Homo sapiens: one gene and its partners. The protein of the gene in region 4 purifies or fractionates together with the protein of the main gene of each other region. This does not show direct contact. Each region holds a gene or a part of one and is shown on either strand. Other genes may lie near its edges.

What was found.
Region 1: the proteins of MYH6 (region 4) and MAGEB3 purify together in Homo sapiens (co-immunoprecipitation; one large-scale study listed by IntAct). This does not show direct contact.
Region 2: the proteins of MYH6 (region 4) and UMPS purify together in Homo sapiens (affinity purification with mass spectrometry; one large-scale study listed by BioGRID and IntAct). This does not show direct contact.
Region 3: the proteins of MYH6 (region 4) and SPICE1 purify together in Homo sapiens (affinity purification with mass spectrometry; one large-scale study listed by BioGRID and IntAct). This does not show direct contact.

What each region holds. Positions count from the first base shown.
Region 1 is NC_000023.11:30,233,639-30,235,825, reverse strand, and holds part of MAGEB3 (melanoma-associated antigen B3), read right to left. Parts: intron 1-2,187.
Region 2 is NC_000003.12:124,740,434-124,743,951, reverse strand, and holds part of UMPS (uridine 5'-monophosphate synthase), read right to left. Parts: intron 1,801-3,518; coding exon 1,686-1,800; intron 38-1,685; coding exon 1-37. UniProt on the Homo sapiens protein: Bifunctional enzyme catalyzing the last two steps of de novo pyrimidine biosynthesis, orotate phosphoribosyltransferase (OPRT), which converts orotate to orotidine-5'-monophosphate (OMP), and orotidine-5'-monophosphate decarboxylase (ODC), the terminal enzymatic reaction that decarboxylates OMP to uridine monophosphate (UMP).
Region 3 is NC_000003.12:113,508,657-113,512,174, reverse strand, and holds part of SPICE1 (spindle and centriole-associated protein 1), read left to right. Parts: intron 1-3,518.
Region 4 is NC_000014.9:23,380,603-23,385,470, forward strand, and holds the end of MYH6 (myosin-6), read right to left. Parts: intron 4,440-4,868; coding exon 4,314-4,439; intron 4,116-4,313; coding exon 3,840-4,115; intron 2,719-3,839; coding exon 2,623-2,718; intron 1,961-2,622; coding exon 1,826-1,960; intron 1,462-1,825; coding exon 1,438-1,461; 3' UTR 1,385-1,437; downstream 1-1,384. UniProt on the Homo sapiens protein: Muscle contraction.

The DNA.
Region 1 (2,187 bases), on a different chromosome or scaffold from region 4:
AGCAGAGAGGTACCACTTTGGATTTAAAAGAAGGTCGCCTCTGCAGTTTTCTGTGAGAGCACTGCTCTGGAAACCCAGAGGGCTTCTGTTCTGATCAGTTTGTCCTCTGAGAACCCTGTGAAAGTAATTAAAGTGTGCCTTAGGCCACAGCCTGCCAGCCCTGTTCTGTGTATACTGGGACTGAGAGCAGCCGTGGCATGTCTAGTCCTTGTGGATCTCCTTTTACTCTGGGGTAGGAGGTTTCTCTCAGTTCACACTCAGGACCATCATAAAAACTGTCAGGGCTGGGTCTTCTCCCCTGTGCTGCACTAAATTTGACACCTCCAGCAAATGTCCTCATCTCCTTGGGACCACCTAAGAGGAGGTGAAGGAATGTCTCAGCCTTACCACCCCTGACAGGAGGAACTGGGTGCTAACAGCATTGTGGAGTCCTACTCTTTCCTGGGCTTATTGGAGTCCTGACACCTCATTCATAGTCCTCATCTTGTCTCTAGATAGGACCTAGGACAGCTGCCTCTGCTGCTCTGATGCCCCTCACTTTAGATAAAGGCTCTCAGCAACCTAATGCCATTAAAAGAAGGTGAGTTCACATACACCTGACCTCCATGCCCAGCCTCATCAGCGCTGCAAGTGGGGAGTGGGGGAATCTTTGTTGTCTCTTCTTTATGTGGGAGGAGTTGTATCACTAGTCTTCATTCAGGGTCCTCACTGTGACCCCTGTAAGGCTCTGGGTCTCCTCACTCTTCCCTCTGCAGAACTGGGGCATGTAATTAGTTCAACCTTTCTGGCACTCTCTAGGCAGTAAGGGGGGCTGACGTTATTCCAAGGCTTCCTGGAGCTGAGAGAAGAGGCACAATTTGTGGGACTCTACTTTTTAGAGAGAGTGTTCCCTTTAGTTTTCTCTCAGGTCTCTGACCTTGACTCTTAGTAGGATGTGGGACACTTCCCTCCATTAACCTAAGTCCTCCAGCCTCAGAACAAGACCCTAGACAGGGAAGTCAGGGACCCCTCACCTATGAATACCTTTGCCTGGAGGTTGCAAAATGAGTGCAAGGACATTGTTTGTGTTGACACCTCTATTGCAGAGAGATTGCTTCATTAGCACTCAGGGCCCTCACCTTGACTCCAGTTAGGACCCAAGTCTCTCTTCCACCTGCTGAACTGGGGCTACTTTCTTAGACCAAGGCCCTTCCCTCCCTGAGACTTTCCAGGTAGATATCTGTCAGACAGCTTTCAAGGTATTCCCAGGGAAGACTTCCGGGGCAGGATTTAGTGTGGCCCTCTTTGTTACAGGTTGGGGGATGGTGGTCCCTTTCATGCACATTCAGGGTCCTGACCTTGACTCCAGACAGTCCAAGGAATTCACCCTCTGCCGAAGAGATCCCGTGCCCCTCGCCTCCAGATCCTCCCCTTCAAAGCACTTCCAAGGAAGTGAGGAAGAGCCTTATCTGTTCACAGCTTCCTGGGGTCTGATGGCTGACAACACGGGTGGAACTCTATGAGACTTCACTGTTTTGGAGTTGCTGGTCCCTAGATTCTCATTCAGGGTCTTCACCTTGGTATCTTATCACAGCCTGAAATTTCTCCCTCTACTGACCTGAGTTCGCCAACCTCCAAACAAAACCCTCATCTCCCTGAACACTTCCCTCCCTGGATGGGGAAGTCAGGGCCTCCGCTTATGACTACACTTGTCTGGAGCCTTCTAAACTGGCTAGCAGCAGTGAGACCTTGTCTGAAAAAAAATAAAAATAAATAAAAAAGACAAGGACCACTGGTGCTAACCAGGAGGATGCTAACCAGTAGGGCTGCTGCTGCTTTCTGTTGACGCCCCTACTGGGAACAGATCCCATCCTTTAGCACTCGGAGACTTCACCTTGGCTCCAGTTAGGGTCCAGGTCCCCGCCAACTGAATAACTGGGGCTGCTCCCTTAGTGAAAGACCCTCCCTCTGGGTGCCTTTCCAGACAGAACTCAACCAGGACCTCCCAGGGTCAACCACAAGGGTGAGACGTGTGGGTCCCCTTTTGTAAGGGGCAGGGAGTTGTGAGGGTGAGACACGTCCCGCTCTGGGTCTCCGAGGGCTGACAGCAGGGGGTGACACGCTGGGACCCCACTGTTCTGGAGTCAGTGGTCCCTAGGTCCTTATTCAGGGTTCTCACCTTGTTACTAAGCGGAGCAGAGTAACACC
Region 2 (3,518 bases), on a different chromosome or scaffold from region 4:
TCTTGTGGGCTATTGTACTGTTGGCCAAGATTATCTCCTGCAAGAAACACAAAAATTGTTGTTTCACATAATACAAAAATCAGAAAACCTGTCACATGACTTCTCTGAAAAAGTATCTAACCAGCTTTAAATAAAAACATGCCCCTACTTTCGTTCCCCTTTTGTACAGCAACTGCGTAAAAACAGGAGCTGAAGAGACTCACTGGGTAGGCCAGAGACGTCAAATGGAGAAAGATGATCACCAACTCCTTTTCAATGGTAAAGTTTATTTTATTTATTTATTTATTTATTTATTTTTATTTATTTATTTTTTTGAGACGGAGTCTCGCTCTGTCACCCAGGCTGGAGTGCAGTGGTGCTATCTCGGCTCACTGCAAGCTCTGCCTCCCAGGTTCATGCCATTCTCCTGCCTCAGCCTCCCGAGTAGCTGGGACTACAGGCGCCTGCCACCACGCCTGGCTAATTTTTTGTATTTTTTAGTAGAGATGGAGTTTCACCGTGTTAGCCAGGATGGTCTCGATCTCCTGACCTCATGATCCGCCCGCCTCAGCCTCCCAAAGTGCTGGGATTACAGGCATGAGCTACTGCGCCCCGCCCTATTTATTTATTTATTTTTTTGAGACAGAGTCTTGCTCTGTCACCCAGGCTGGAGTGCAATGGCACAATCTCAGCTCGCTGCAACCCCCGCCTCCCGGATTCAAGCGATTCTCCTGCCTCAGCCTCCCGAGTAGCTGGGATTAAAAGCGTGCACCACCACGCCCGGCTAATTTTTGTATTTTGAGTAGAGACAGGGTTTCACCATGTCGGCCAAGCTGGTCTTGAACTCCTGACCTCAGGTGATCTGCCCACCTCGGCCTCACAAAGTGCTGGGATTACGAGCGTGAGCCCCCGCACCCAGCCTTATTTATTTTATCATTATTTTTTCATGTAATTTTTTTCCAGAAGCATAAATTCAAGTTGCCCTAAATATTCACCCCCTCAATGTCAAATTTTAGATCATCTGTAGCTTAACAATATATTAAAAAAAGAAGTAAAACTCATATGTTGCAAAGAAAGGTTCAATATCAAAAAAATACAATAAAGATTGGCCTCACAATTGAAGAAAATTTTAGCACACATCTTAGAATCACCACAAGGCACTGCTGAGCAAGTCTAACCTGACCACTACCATATACAAGAACCCCATCAAGTGGTCACACAGACTATCCATAAACCCGAATCCTTAAATTTTGCTTTTTTATTAAATTCCGCTGTTTCAGAAGCATTCTGTTAAATGGCTTATTATCTTCCAAATCCAAGATACTTTAAGTATTCTTAAAAGCCTAGACCCTAACTATAATATCTAGTCAAACAATTATTAGGGCTTACGAATAAGGGCTTATAAGTACAGAGTGTTTACTCTGTGCCAAGACATTGTGTTAAATATTCTACATGTTATCTCATTAAAGCATCTTGATTACCTTATGAGGTCAATACTGTTATCATCCCCATTTTACAGACAATTAGACTAAAAGAAGTAAACTGACTTGTCCAAAGATACATAGTTACCAAAGGGCTCATTCATTATTGTTCTAGACTAAGAAGGCTTTTCTTAAGCAAGTGTATAATAATATGCAAAGTTTTATTTTGCCTGCCATGGGTAAAGAAGCATTTTTGGAAGAGCCACGACCAGTGACCAGATTTACCTCCTGCTTCCAACTGAACTCCTGGAGTCAAGTGAAGAAATTCTGGTTTCATGCTTACTCGGGAGCCAGAAATAAAACCAACAACAAATTCAGAGTGCTCCTCAGCCATTCTAACCTAAATGGAATGTAATAGGACATATTATAAGAAAACAGTTAATCACACAGAATAAAAGTAAAAATATGCTCTATTTTTTCAAAACTTAAAAAAAAAAAAAAAAGACATGAGGTCTCCCTATGTTCCCTGGCTGGTCTTGAACCCCTGGGCTCAAGGGATCCTCCTACCTTGGCCTCCCAAAGTGCTGGGGTTACAGTTGTAAGTCACCATGCCTGGCTTATGCTCTATTATCTAGTTAGAAACTTTGCTGTATTATAGATGCCTTTTCTCATTCCATATATATAAAGTTACTATATCTGAAACAGGTCATCTTAGATAGAAACCATAATAAAACACATCTGCTTCATTAAGACTCTGAGATGACCCTTTCCCTTCCCTTCCCGCAATAAACCATACGTAAAGCAGAAATCCTATACTATATGCATCTAAAATCAAGATGCTGCATAATTTCTTATTTCTAATAATGCTTGGTGACCCACCTACTTCCAAAAAGGATTTGAGGCGAGTACTCTAGAACATATTATAATGGTATGAAACCACATTCAAGGCTTACTGACTATCTACAGACGGGGTACTCCATATCCAAAGGCAGCTGTCATGTAAAGAACAGCTACGCTTTCAAGAGCTAAAGAAATCTCACCTCTACCACTTTCCCTCTTCTGTAACATCAACTGGTCTCCCCAATTTCTATACTATTATCTCACATTCATAAAAGTCTCTTTAGAAGGTCTGCCTGGCTTTCTGATTCGGTAGGTACTTTCCCCGAGACGTGACTCCCATACTTCCCTTCTTATTTGATACTTCCCGGAGACCAGACTCAGTACCACCACTGCACTCCAGCCTCGGTACTTCGAGACCTGAGACACACATTGATACATTCATTCTTGCCACCAAGTACTACTGCCAACAAACAAGTCATGTCTTGTCCTTGAGCCAGACCCAGACTCCCAGAATGCCAAATATTAAAACTGACTCATGGCCCCTGTGATTTTGAGACTTGGGAAATCAGACAGTTATAGTCAATTCAGGGATAGGGTTAAAACCTGACTGTAGGGCCATATGAGTTAAGTCTCCAAATAGTCTGAAATAATATGAAAAAATGGAAATCCTTTACTTCTAGAATCTTCACATGGGGATTGTCTTGGGGATTTCATTTTTAAAAAAATCATGGGGATTTTCTTGGGGCTTTTTATTTTTAATTTTTTTTGACAGGCTCTTACTCTTGCCCAGGCTGAGGTAAAGTGGCATGATCATGGCTCCCTGCAGCCTTGAACTTCAAGCTCAAGCGATCCTCCCACCTCAGCCTCCCAAGCAGCTGGGACTATAGGCACGTACCACCATGCCTGGTTATTTTCTTTTTCATTTTTTTGTAGAGACGAGATCTCACTATGACGTCCAACTCCTGGCCTCAAGCAATCCTCCCGCCTTGGCCTCCCAAAGTGCTAGGATTACAGGTGTGAGCAACTGCGCCCAGCCCCCTATGGCAATTTTTTTAAAGTAATATTATATTCTAAAATATCTGACAAGAATAAGAGAAAGCCACTGCATGTGGGCTGCTGTCATGGGAATGTGCATCTCTGTAGGACTTGGGAGATTCTGAGAAACTGCATGTCTGGGAAGCTCTTCTCATCTTCTCTCAATTCATGGTAAGATGAAAAAGACATTATCTTAAAGTCCTGGTAGATTTAGTAAGTGTTTGTTTGACTAACTATCTGGGT
Region 3 (3,518 bases), on a different chromosome or scaffold from region 4:
CACAATTTCTGTGGGTTGTGAGTTTGGACATGGCTTAGTTAGATTCTTTGCTTAGGGTCTTCCAAAGCTGTAATCAAGTCGTTGGCCAGTATGCATTCTCATCTGGAGTTTTAGCTTCTGAATAAGTAAAATATTCTAAATGTAACTTGAAATACTTTTCCCCCCATTTTTAAGAGTAACATAGGTCCATTATAGAAAATTTGGGAAATATAAAAGCAAACAGAGGTAACCCAATTCTGGCAAAGTTTTCCAGCATGTGCTTTACAGTCAGTCAGACCTGGTCTTGAGTGTCAGCTCTTGGCTCTGCCTGTTATTATTTGTATAACTTTGAGCTATATACTTTCTCTAAGCCTCATTTTTCATTTTTTTTGAATTTTAATATTCTTAATATTTTTAAATTTTGTTTCAAGTTCTAGGGTACACGTGCGGTATGTGCAGGTTTGTTTCATAGGTAAACGTGTGCCATAGTGGTTTGCTGCATCTATCAACCCATCACCTAGGTATTAAATCTAGCGTGCATTAGCTATTTTTCCTGATGCTCTGTCTCCCTGCATCCCCCTGCCATCTGACAGGCCCCAGTGTGTGTTGCTCCCCTCCCTGTGTCCATGTGTTCTCATTGTTCAGCACCCACTTATAAGTGAGTACATGTGGTGTTTGATTTTCTGTTCCTGCATTCGTTTGCCAAGTGTAATGGCTTCCAGTTCCATCCATGCCCCTGCAAAGGACATGATCTCATTCCTTTTTATGGCTTTATAGTATTCCATGGTTTATATGTACCACATTTCTTTATTCAGTCTATCAATGATGGGCATTTGGGTTGATTCCATCTCTTTGCTATTGTGAATAGTGCTGCAGTGAACATATATGTGTGTGTATCTTTATAATTGAATGATTTATTTTCCTTTGGGTATATATGCAGAAATGTGATTGCTGGGTCAAATGGTATTTCTGGTTCTAGGTCTTTGAGGAATCGCCACACTGTCTTCCACAATGGTTGAACTAATTTGCATTTCCACCAACAGTGTAAAATTGTTCCTATTTCTCCACAGTCTTGCCAGCATGTGTTGTTTCTTGACTTTTTAATAATCGCCATTCTGACTGGCATGAGATGGTATCTCACTGTAGTTTTGATTTGCATTTCTCTAACGATCAGTGATGTTGACTTTTTTTCATACGTTTGTTGGCTGCATAAATGTCTTCTTTTGAGAAGTTTGTGTTCATGTCCTTTGCCCACTTATTAATGGGGTTGTTTGTTTTTTTGTCAATTTAAGTTCCTTGTAGACTCTGGATATTAGCCCTTTGTCAGATGGAGAGATTGCAAAATTTTTCTCTCATTTTGTAGGTTGTCTGTTTGCTCTGATGATAATTTCTTTTGCTGTGCAGAAGCTCTTTAGTTTAATTGGATTCCATTTGTTAAGTTTTGCTTTCGTTACAATTGCTTTTGACATTTTCATCATGAAATCTTTGCCTGTGTGTATGTGCTGAATGGTATTGCTTAGATTTTCTTCTAGGGTTTTTATAGTTTTGGGTTTTACATTTAAGCCTTTAATTATCCTGAGTTGATTTTTGTCTATGGTGTAAGGAAGGGGTCCCGTTTCAATTTTCTGCATATGGCTCACCAGTTCTCCCAACACTATTAAGTAGGGAATCCTTTCCCCATTGCTTGTTTTTGTCAGGTTTGTTGATGATCAGATGGTTGTAGATGTGCAGTCTTATTTTTGAGTTCTCCATTCTGTTCCGTTGGTCTATATGTCTGCTTTTGTAGCAGTACCATGCTGTTTTGGTTACTGTAGCCTTGTAGTATAGTTTGAAGTAGGGTAGCATGATGCCTCCAACTTTGTTCTTTTTGTTTAGGATTGTCTTGGCCATATGGGCTCTTTTTTGGTTCCATATGAATTTTAAAATAGTTTTTTCTAATTCTGTGAAGATGTTAATGGTAGTTTAATAGGCATAGTATTGAATCTATAAATTACTTAAAAATGCCAGTATGGCTATTTTCACTGTATTGATTCTTCCAGTCTCATTTTTCTTATTTGGGAAAAGGGTTAATTGTTGTCACTGACATCATTATCCTCAACATTTAAATACAATTTTGTATGCTAGGCAGGTGTATTAGTTCATTCTCATGCTGCTATAAAGAAATACTCGAGACTGGGTAATTTATAAAGAAAAGAGGTTTAATTGACTCACAGTTTTGCAGGCCTCAGGAAACTTACAATTATGGCAGAAGGCCAAACAGAAGCAGGTACCTTTTTCACAAGGTGGCAGGAGAGAAAGTGAGTGCAAACAGGGGAAATGCCAGACACTTATAAACCCATCAGATCTCATGAGAATTCACTATCATGAAAACAGCAAGAGGGAAACTGCTCCCCATGATCCAATCACTTCCCACTGGGTCCCTCTCATGACACATGGGGATTATAGGGATTACAATTCGAGATGAGATTTGGGTGGGGACTCAGCCAAACCATATCAGCAGGGGTTCTAAGCACTTATATATTTAATTAGTTCTGTTTTATAGTTAGTGAAAAAGCTGGGATGTGAACCCAGACAGTGATTCCAGACTGTATTCTTAGCCTTTATACTATATTGTCTCTCAAGACAGAACAGGCTTCACAGGGTTGTGGGATCAAATGTGAAGCTCTTAGCAGAGATAAGTGCTTTATTAATAATGCCTATATTCTAACATCATTGAGAATATACTATACATACAGTTCTGTATTCTACTTTTTATACTTCTTATGTATTTTCCTGTCATTAAACATTTTTAATTTTAATGGATACATAATTCATCATATAGGTATACTGACATTTTATGACTCTTGTTTTTGCAGAGTAAATTGGAGATATAAGTGGTTAAAGATCTAAGTGGTTAAAATACATTAGATTCATGTCTTTGAATAACTATTGTTTTCCTATCTTTTAAAATAACAGCTTTATTGAGCTATAATTCACCCTTTAAAGTATACAGTTCAGAGGTTTTTAGTCAATTCACATAATTGCGCAACTAACATTACTATCTAATTTCAGAACATTTTCTTCACTCCCCAAAGAAACACTATACCCATTAGCAGTCACTCTCCATTATATGCTCCCTCTAGATGCTGGCAATCACTAATCTATGTCTCTGTGGATTTACTTATTCTGGACACATCATATCAATGATACCAAACAATAGGGGGCCTTCTGTGTTTAGAACCCTTTCAAGATTCATTCATGTTGTAGCATGTATCAGTACACCATTGCTTATTATTGCCAAGTAATAGTCCATTGTGTAGATATACCACATTTTATTAATACATTCATCAGTTGGTGGACATTTGGGATGTCTCTACTTTTTGTCTGTTCAAAATGCTGCTGTGACCTTTTATGTACAAGTTTTTACGTGGACGTATGTTTTTAGTTCTCTTGGATGTAAATATGTGAGTTGAATTGCTGGGTCATGTTGTTACTCTGTGTTTAGCTTCTTGAGGAATTGCCAGCTGTTTCCAAAGTGCCCACACTATTTTACATTCCAT
Region 4 (4,868 bases):
GAGCAGACACTGCCACAGCCCGGGAGTCAGCCCTGCTGGGCCGAGACAGACAGATGTGCAGCCAGACGTTCCTGCCCAGCCCGAGGAGCCCAGCATGGCCTGGCTCAGCAGCTCCATCCCAGCTGACGTGCTATCTCCTGTCGCTGATGTGTGTGTGTTCCCGCCCTGAGATACAATCCTTCTTCTGGAGCGCTCCTTCCAGCTGCAGGCCCCAGCTCCCAAGTCCTGCCCGAACCCTGGATCTTGAACTCTGGTCAGAGCGCTCTGCTTCCTTGGTGGCAGCCACTCCTCTCTCTTGGTCTTTTTCCTGCCTCCTGCTTCCTGTTCTCCTATCCTTGTGTCCTGGCTCACCATCAGAACTGGCAGCCTCTCCTGGGCTAGAACCAACAGGATTTTGTGTTTCTCTGGTCACTGCTCACATTTCTCAGGGCTTTATGCACAGTCCATTCTCATGGTCTCAGAGGAGGGATAGAAGAGGCTCCACTTGGGGAGTCAGGGAGATGGGGTGCCAGGTGAACGGTTAAGGAGGCGGTCAGCAGAGCCTGGCTGCAAAGCCCAGTGGGGAGTGGGGATTTGCTTTGTGCAGAACGGGGTCAGGACCGGGCCTGTCCCACAAGCAGCTGTGTGATCCAGGCCAGACTGTCCCCAGTAGGAGCTTAGAGAGAGCAGAAATGTGACCACAGTGTTTCCCTGTACAGGCACCTGTGCCATCTGTGTCTGTGTGAGAACCAACATGAAATGAGCAATGCCCAGGCTTGGTCCTCATGGCATATTGGTTTGGGCTCAGTGTTGATTGGCCCCAGAGTCTCAAGATGCCCTCACGGTGAGGTGCTGAATCATAGGAGGCAGGGGGAGACCCCTGGGGAAGACAGGGAGGGGGCTCCCTGGGAGTTACTTCCTAGGGGCTGACTAGAATGGAATCTCTCCCATCTCCTTTCCCATACCTTAATTCTCAGCCAGCTCTGAGCCTTTTCTGGCATTGGTGGAAAATTCATTTCAGAAAGAATGGGTGTCCTAGGACACCTTTAATCATTGCAGCCTCAGGGGTGGGGTAGGTGGAGAGTGGCTTCAACTTCGGCACCAAAATTCTATCTCGTAGCATCTTGGACTGGCTCACCATTTTGATGCCATTGTTTTCTTCACTTTTGAAATTTCTCCCTCTCCACCCTTGTGTGGTTGACTGAGCAGAACTGGGACTCACAGCTGTCCACGTCAGGCAGAACACCTCACTCCTCTGCACCTCGGTCTCCTTCCTTGTGGATATGGGATGCCTTGGCTCTGGCAGCTCTGATACAGGGGCTGGGGGCCTCCCTCCTCTCAGGCCCCCTACTGCCCTGATCCAGGATGGACAGCTGGCAGGAAGGACAGATGGGCTCAGGCAGAGTTTGGCACTCATATTTATTACAGGTTGGCAAGAGTGAGGTTCCCGAGGCAGTGTCACTCCTCATCGTGCATTTTTTGCTGCAAAAAGAATAAGAGGTGTGAGGGGGCAGCTGGCAAGAGGGAGAAGTGTGTGGGGACAAATCCCTGGGGCTTTCAGAGGCCTAAGGGAGATGCCCTTGGAGGGAGAGGCAGGGCCCCAGGGATCCTGTGGTCCCACGTTAGAGGCACTTGTGGTTTAGGGGGATGGAACTGGGGATCTCTGCAGAAGTTCCAGTCAGTGGGGGGCTGTTTTGAGCAGGAGAGTGGATTCTCAGGTTATGTAAGCTATGGGACCCTCAGAACTGCCTACATATAGGGCAAGCAGTGCCCACTCTGAAGGGCACCCATATCAGGGGGCATGCTAATGTGGAAGTGACTAGTGAAGCCCAGGGGAGGGACCCACCTTGGCACCAATGTCACGGCTCTTGGCTCGAAGCTTGTTGACCTGGGACTCAGCGATGTCCGCCCGCTCCTCTGCCTCATCCAGCTCATGCTGCACCTTGCGGAACTTGGACAGGTTGGTGTTGGCTTGCTCCTCCTGTGGTGGGACAGTGGGGATGGGTGAATGAGCTGGAGATGGGCTATGGGATTCTCAGCCTCTCAACCTGAGGTTCCAGCTCCCTGTCCCTGAGGCACCCATACCTCATGCATATTCCTGCAACAGCCTTCCCAAGGGTATCCTGCAACTGCCTTGCACTCTTCTCAAACATGTCCAGCACTCAGAGTCCTTCACGGCCATCCACTGCCCCAGACAAATCCCATGCTGCCCGATCTGGGCCCCTTCAGAATCCTGTTTTGCTGCACCTGTCCCGGACCCCAGCTTCCTGTGCAGGCATGCTAATCAGCAACTCACATCCACCCAGATGTCTTCCCCACTGCCCTGTGGCTAGCTGGGTCCCCTTCTAGGCCCAATTCCACCGCCACCTTCCTGCCTTCAGCTTCGGCTGCCCCACGTCCTGCACTAGCATCTACACTGCCTTCTGTTGGGTTATGGTATCTGAATTGTAAGCAGCTTGTAGGTGGTGCCTTTGTTAATTCAGAACACCTGACAGCTCTGAGCATACCAGATGTGTCAAACAAATGTTTGAGAGTTAAAGTTTATAGCAAACTCTTTGTCCAGGCCCCTCTGTAGGAGATATTCATTGGTTCTCACAAATAGTAGGTGTGTTGATGAGAAAGGGAAGAAAGCTCTGAACTCACCGCCTCCTCGGCCTGGCGCTTGTAGGCCTTGACCTTCAGTTGCAGCTTGTCCACCAGGTCCTGTAGCCGCAGCAGGTTCTTTTTGTCTTCCTCTGTCTGGGGGTGGGAGGGTGGGAGAAGCTGGTTTGGAGGGGGAGCAAATGCAATCACCTTTCCCTCCTCCATCATTTTACTCTTCTCCCCTTGCCTTTGCTGCCCCTCCCTGCAATGATCCAGGTCAAAGAGGTGGTGGGGAAGATTCTCTGACTCTATCGTAGGTCAAAGGGGCAATGCAAGGTTGTCAGTCAGGGATCCACAGAGCAATGAAGGCTGAAGTCATAAAGCTAGAAGTAGGGGGAGGGGCTCAGAACCTAATGGAATTCCCTAATGTGGTAATATAAAAGCACCAGGTCTGTTCCAGCTCCAGTATGGTGGATAAAGCTCCAACCTGGACTTACATAGGTTCTCTTGGCCAGTAGTTCTTGACCAGAAAAAGAATGCAGAAAGAAGGGGGTATTATCATAATCCAGATTATTCTACATTCTAATATATTGTACTGGGCCAGAATTCAGGCATCGGGATCACTGGCTCCAACGTCACTCGATCATTCCTATCTCTTTATCATTGTATGTGCCAGGATGCCATTTCTACTTCTGTCCACAAATCACTCTGTGGTTCTGTATCTGTAACCTCTTTCTTGTGCCTCTGGTATCCATCTATCAAATGGACTGACACCCTCGTCTCCTTGGCCTTTTCTTCCCAGGTACACTGAAAATAACGGGCCAAGGGCACAGCTCTCAGCTATGCAAGTGGAGGTTTTAGAGCATTCTAGGGTCCTCTTTCTCTGTGGCCTTCTCTTTGTGTGCCAGAAGTTCTATGGAAGATTTCCGGGTCTTTTCCCCTCCCCTGACTCTTATCCCCACAGTCGAAGGTGGAAGGATTCTTTGAACTGTTCTGAAGTCTTCATGGTAGCACTTAGAGTTATTAAAAAAAAAAAAAAAGAAAGAAAGAAACCTGGGGAAAGACTAGTTAGAAGAGTTTTCAGGAAGTAGAAGTAGATTCTTCATTTGCTGGAAAAACTCATAGACTCAAGTCAAACTGACTGCAGAGCGTGAGAAGAACGTTAAATCTACCAACAGCATCTCAAGGAGGAGGTGAGAGGAGCCCTGTGAGGGCGGGGCAGTGGGGCCAGAGAAGAAACTTCCACATCTACTCCTGGTGTCTGGCGTCCGCCGCACCTGGTAGGTGAGCTCCTTGATGCGCCGCTCGCTCTTCCTCATGCCCTTCACCGACTCTGCGTTGCGCTTCTGCTCGGCCTCCAGCTCACCCTCCAGCTCCCGCACCCGCGCTTCCAGCTTCTGCAGCTGCTTCTTGCCTCCCTTGAGGGCGATCTGCTCGGCCTCGTCCAGCCGGTGCTGCAGGTCCTTAATGGTCTGCTCCATGTTCTTCTTCATGCGCTCCAGGTGGGCGCTGGTGTCCTGCTCCTTCTTCAGCTCCTCTGCCATCATGGCGGCCTGTGTGCAGGAGAGAGGTGGCAAGGAACATGGGCCAGGGGCCGGGGCCTTTTGCCCCCCAAGGATCTCCTTTCTCCCATCAGGCCCTCAAATCCACAGAACTGCAGAGTTGGCTTGGTGTTACAGCACAGTGGCCTGGCCTGGACCCAAGGCCTTGTTTCTGTCTTTAGGGGAGGCGGAAGGTGGGCGGTCACTTACATCCGTGATGGCCTTCTTGGCCTTCTCCTCGGCGTTTCTGCACTCCTGCACTGCCTCCTCCACTTCCGACTGGAGCTGGGTCAGATCCGACTCCATCTTCTTCTTCTGGTTGATGAGGCTGGTGTTCTAGACATGGAGAGAGAAAAATGATCAAATATATACTACACTTTGTTACCTGATTTCATACCCTTTCTCCAGAAAGAATTAAAGGTGGTCATTTTTTTTTTAAAACAACAAGCCCACTTTTAGACTATTGATCGTTTTGTACCTGCTTTCCCTTTTCCTATGAAAGTGCATACATTCTAGACATTGTATCTAAGATTACTAAACTCTGAAAAAAGACTTCAAATAGCAAAAGGTCTGCAGTATTACCCTGGAGCTCTTTAGCAACATGTTTACGTAGGAGCATGACAATATTCCAAGGAAGATGGAAACAACTTTTTACCAGGACAATATTCCAGAGATGTTTATAGCTATACCAAGAATGTAGTGGGGTAAGGAAGAGGGGATGAGGTAAGTGGATGATGTCATTCTCACACATACTAGATTAAAGAA